2 linked regions of the Homo sapiens genome follow. The protein of the gene in region 2 purifies or fractionates together with the protein of the main gene of each other region. This does not show direct contact. Each region holds a gene or a part of one and is shown on either strand. Other genes may lie near its edges.

Region 1 (3,500 bases), on a different chromosome or scaffold from region 2:
GAACAAATGCCAGCAAAGATGCAATTAACAAGAAAGCAGGTGATCAGGTGTGGCGGGGAAGTGCCAGGCTGGGAGCTAGAAGCAATGAATTCTAGGTCTGGTTTTGCCACTCTCACTCCCTGCGTGGGTGGCCTGGGAGACTCACTTCATCTTTGTCTGCCTCATTTTCCTCATCTGTAAAATGAAGAGGTGTGGCCAGCCTAGATCCTCTCCAAGATCTTGTCCCACTTTCAAGGTTTATAATTTGCACAGATTGCGAAAGCAAGGTACTTGGAAATAAGTTCTTAAAACTGCATTTGTATTACTGCTTGAACTTCCATCTATCTCACTTTCCTATGGTTAAAATAAAGTTCCTTTTAAACTTTTAAGTGCTGAAAGATGTAGCGTTTTCTACATTGCAACTATAAACGAAGTTCTCCTTGTTAAAATGGTTACAGGGTTTTCACAGAAATGGAAGAAGACCCTTGTGACAAGGCAACAGAATGAAAAAAAATTTGTAGCAATTTTAGCACTTTCAACAGAAGTCATTAGGCACATTAAATTTATTATATAGGAATTGCTAATCTCTACTCTGGTACTTGCAATTTTATAGCATTTGATCATGCAAAATGGTCTGTGTAGGAAGTTTGTATTTTTTCCAGGTCATGTATTGTTAACATTGCTGAGGTTTGTTTAAATGCTTTGATTGTCTTGCAACACAGTCATGTGGCAACTGTGGCCAAAGTCATCTTTTGAGCTACCTCAGACCAGATCAACTTTATAGTGTTTTTAGGTCACTTGGGACTAATCACAGAGCCACTGATCAGATTTACCGGGCAGTATTTGATTGATTACTTAGTGGGTGATTTTTTGCAACTACAACCTTTTCCATGTACAGACCTTTTCTGTTTCCTTTAGCCAGCATCAAACAATGCTCTTGCCACTGGGACCCCAGATACTAAGGGCTGTATGACCTTCCCAGACATGAAGGAGAATTTTCTGAGAAAGGAGCCAGTCAGCATAGGAACAGGAAGGCAGATCTCTTTGCGTTCATGCACTGAGGATTAGCATGCAAAGGAAGGGACTCACTCAAAGGGAAGGTCCGCCAATGGTGAGAGAAAGCCCCAGAGATGTTAGGATGTCAGATGTGCACTGATTTACATCTCCAACAGGGACCTGGATCTAAGCCTTGAATTGCAACACAGCATTAATTGTATTGTGTAATTAACTACACTAAAAGCCACAATGATCTTGTATCCACAATCATTTAGACTAAATGTATCTCAAAATGTTGTGACAAGTGAATGAATAATGCTTTAGTGAAATAAAATGGTAAAATGAACATCTCCTCACCATTTGATCCACTCCTAAGATCCATTTGTAGGTGTTTGCAGCCAAACTCCCTCAGCACATTAAGATCTTAAACACCATCTTTCTATACAAAGGAAATCACTAAAAGTATAGTTTGTTATTGACTATGCAAAATTATTCTAGTTTCTCTTGGAGGATAATAAATACGTGCTTGGAGGAGCTACTTGTGTTTGTTAAAGCAGTTTGTGTGTTTTCATATTATTATCAGTGCGATTAGCTCTCCACTGGTGGAAGTGTTAAGAAGCTTTCAGGGATCTGGGTTTAGGCTTCTCTATTTGGTGAAGAAATAACTCATTACTTCTTGTACATGTTGAGTTTTACTTGTAGATGAACTTGGCATTACTAATATTAAATGTGCTGTGGAAGGAAGCCAGGTTTCCTATTCTGAAAGTCTGTCCACAGATTCCCCAAACCTTTTGTGAAGAGTTTCTTTATGTTTTCCCAGTGGCAGGCACACTGGGTGAAACACTCAACAGGCTTTCATTTTTGCCTCAGTATACCCTGCTGACCTCAGTATACACCTAATGCCAGTCACCTTTCCCTGGGGTGTGATGTCACCTGTAGGCCCTTGCCCCTGCCCTGAGGGGAGAAGGAGTAAGGTTGTGGGCTTTAAAGAAAAGTGAGAGGCCCACCTGACTTCAGGGGGCCTCGTGGTATATTTGCAATGGGAACTGGCCTGAGCGCATGGCTGTACTTATCAGGGACATATGGAGAAGGAGGAAGCCCATGGAAATGACCAGTGAGCATGAACAGAGTCAATAAAACATTATTTTTGGATAATGAACTCGCTTTTTCAGACTCTGAGATATAATCGATTTAAGTCCATCCTACACACAAGCCATATATCCCATAAAAGGGAGAATTCTGAAGAAATGTTTAAAGACCAGGAGTCCTCTCCTCCATCTTATTCTCGTCTTTGCATTCTGAATTTGTGTCCAGGTATAAGGTGCAAATTGCAATCCTATTCATCATGCCTTTGACTCTTGACACACGTTTGGGTACTGGCCAAAGGGAGTCCTCTATCTTAAGCAGTGGAGCTTACTTTCTAATGCCAGGGTGCATGTCCTACCTGAAGACCTTCAATGTCACATTCGGCCCTTGTGTCTGTGTGTGTGCGCCTGAGGCTTTGGGGGAACACTTCGAGTTTAATCCCTGTACTGCTCACCCCGGGGTAGTAATATCAATTCATTTCCCTTAGAAACATGCTGTCCTGGCTTAGGCAGAACCTCAGGAGTTCATGTAGTTCAGCTCTGCTCCCAGAAAGGGAAGCCCTGACTGCCTGAATTTACCTAATTGTCTTTGGAGTCGATCAGTAACTACCAGACTAAATAGGTAGGTAGACCTTTATTAGAACAGTGAAGCTTTTTAAATCTGAGGACCCTGTTACACTCTTAAAAATTACCGAGGACCCCAAAGAACTGTTTCTTTAAAAAAAATGTAGATTATATCTATCACTATTTACCAAACTAGAAATGAAAACCAGACACATTTTGAAATGTTCATTTACTAATTTATTAAAATAATATAATAATTAAATACTAATATGAATAATATATATATTAAAAAACATTTTCTAAAGTGAAAAAATGTAATGAGAAGAGTGATATTGTTTTTCATTTTTGCAAATCTCCTTAATATTTGGCTTAATAGAAGGGATGTCATATAGCCTCTGGAAAACTCCGCTGTCTATTAGAGATTGAGAATGATAATGTCTTAGTATTATCATGAGAATAGTTTTAACCTCATGGACCTCCTGAAAGGGTGTTAGGGACTGCCAGGAGTCAAGACACAACACTTTGGAAGTTGCTGTGTTAAAATTAAAGAGCTCTGAGATGTGACAAGATGCCTAGTTGCTGCTATATCCACTTTACCAGGCTACATATTTTGAAACTGTTCCCTCTTTTCTTTAACTCCCATATTACTTATTATACCACTCACATGTCTTGGGCAGCTCTGTATTCTAGTTATTTGTCTGCATATCTGCCCAAAGAGACTATGAGCTTAGAGAAGGAGGAGGTCCACTGATCCTTGTAACACTCTGGGTAGTGTCTTACACACAGATGCGTATTATAAACGCAAACAATAACCGCTGCTGTTTATTAAGTATTGTTATGTGCTGGGTGTCCTGCAAAGGCATTAGTTACTTTAAG
Region 2 (2,265 bases):
AATGAGTAGGCAGCCAAAAAAAAAAAAGTAAGGATGTTTTTTTTTTTTTTCCCATGGCATCATATTTAAGAGGATGGATTTAAATTGTGTGAGACCAAAGCATAGAGACTAGATAAGAGGCGATCAAAATATTTCAAAAAGAAATAATGAAGATCCAATGAAGGAAGTGGAAATTAAAATAGGGAAGAGAGTAGATGGATTAGAGAGACATTTAAGAGATGGAATCAATAGATCCTGTTACTAGATAATGGAAGTAAGAGGTGAGGAAGAGTGGAAAAGTCATTAATGACTCTAAGATTTCTGCTTGGCTGCTTACCAAGATTGGCAACAAAGGGAGGGAGAAGGTTTGGAAAAAGAGAGAAGGATAATGAGTTTGACTTTACATAGAATGAAGGGCATCCAGATAGAAATCTTTGGTTAATAATTAGAAATATAGACCTAGAAATTAGGAGGAAACCTGAGACAGAGACAAATATTTCAAAGCTTACAATACAGAGATGATACCTGATTCTATTGGAGCAGGTTTGATCATCTAGGCAGAAATTAGGATGAGAAAAAAGGAGATCCAATAATACAACCTTATAGTCACAGAAGTAAGAAAAAAAGGGTAGTTGTTTTGAAGAAGCCAGGATAGGTGTGGAAAGTACTCAAAAAGAAATCTTCAGGGATAAAATAAAGTGATAATTTAAAAGAAATCAATGGATTAAACATATTGAAACTGTTCTATAGGCAGTGGTCATTGAGTCAGCTTTCAGTGCATTAGGAAGAAGATGCATAGGTGTCAACTCTTTTCTGACAGCATTTACTAGAGAAGAGAAAAAGCTGGGGACTACATCTTCAAGGAAGGGACTTTTTTTGGATGAGCAGTTTTGAGTGTGTTTGTCAGTTAAAGAGAGGAATTAGGTTAGTTTTCATTTGGGAAAAATTGTATATATATTTAATGTAAGTTATCACATTGCATCTTAAAAATATTCTTATTTAATACATATATTTCCTACATGTATATGTGGTAGCATGATAGCAAATAACATTTGTTTGGTATTTCCAAAGGACTTTCATGTACATTGCCTCATTTTACCTTTACAGCTACTCTGAAATACACAGGCATTATCCCTTTTATTCAGCTGAGAAAACTGAGCTTCATTGAGGTGGAGGTCAAAAATCACAAAATTTGTGATGAATTAAGATTTGAACATATGTTTTGTGACTCCAGTTTTCCTTTCAGATTTTAAAATTAATTAAAGGGATCTTCATTATACTTTTATTGTTAACTTTTTGTTAACATAATTTATTCATACATTCAGTGAAAATTTTGTTGAGGTACTGGGACAGGTTAAAAAATACAGTTGTAGCCCTCAGGATATTTAATATCCAGTGAAAAGTGACAGTCAGTAAACCAACAATCTCAATACTTTGATATATGTTGTGAGGTTGTGATAACCGATTCTTGTTTAGTTTAATTCTATATCTCCCTTAGACCAGTGTTAAATTTAAATAAAACACCTCATTTTTTCCAATTCAGGGAAGGCACTAAACATAAAGCATAGGATAGAAATGTTGAACTCATCCAAAATATTATTTTGTTTAATGAAAATGATGAAGATTAAGGAATACTTCCATGTATTGAGTAAGGTTGATAATTTTCTAATTCTTCACTGTGCATTATTTTGTTTGAAGTTGGTAAATTTGGAGTATCCTGCAGACACATTTTGCTTTATGTACTACAACATTCTACAACCAAATAAAAATTATTTTGATTATCTGATTTTGGATTATCTCTGCCAAAGTATATAATGAAAGGTTGTCTCCTTGCTGCTTTACTGAATGAAAAGTGTTGATTTAGTAACTCCAAACTATCAGGTTATTAAATAATCATCTTATTGTGTCTACAAGATAGCTGTCACTCTCACATATTTGTATGTAGGTTTCTAGGACTTTTGGGGTACAACAACAAAGATTTCTAGTAAGTTTTGTTTTTGTTTTTAATTTTATTTTAAATTTATAAATAACAATGGTACCTATTCATGAGATACATAATAATGTTTCCATTCATATAATGTACAGTGATCTGACCAAGGTAATTAGCATATCTATCATTTCGAACATTTTTCTTTGTGTTACGAACATTTAATATGTTCCTTCCAGCTATTTCAAACTATATAATATACTATTGTTAACTATAGTTATCCTACAGTGGTATAGAACACTAGAACTTATTCCTCTTAAAGTTTTGTTTTTAATCTAAGCACTGCTACTAACTGCACA

The links. Proteins that work in one complex are often made in the same cells at the same time.
Region 1: the proteins of LACC1 (region 2) and SERPINB5 purify together in Homo sapiens (affinity purification with mass spectrometry; 4 studies listed by BioGRID and IntAct, with this or other methods). This does not show direct contact.

What each region holds. Positions count from the first base shown.
Region 1 is NC_000018.10:63,479,958-63,483,457, forward strand, and holds part of SERPINB5 (serpin B5), read left to right. Parts: intron 1-3,500. UniProt on the Homo sapiens protein: Tumor suppressor. It blocks the growth, invasion, and metastatic properties of mammary tumors.
Region 2 is NC_000013.11:43,892,168-43,894,432, forward strand, and holds the end of LACC1 (purine nucleoside phosphorylase LACC1), read left to right. Parts: 3' UTR 1-1,765; downstream 1,766-2,265. UniProt on the Homo sapiens protein: Purine nucleoside enzyme that catalyzes the phosphorolysis of adenosine, guanosine and inosine nucleosides, yielding D-ribose 1-phosphate and the respective free bases, adenine, guanine and hypoxanthine.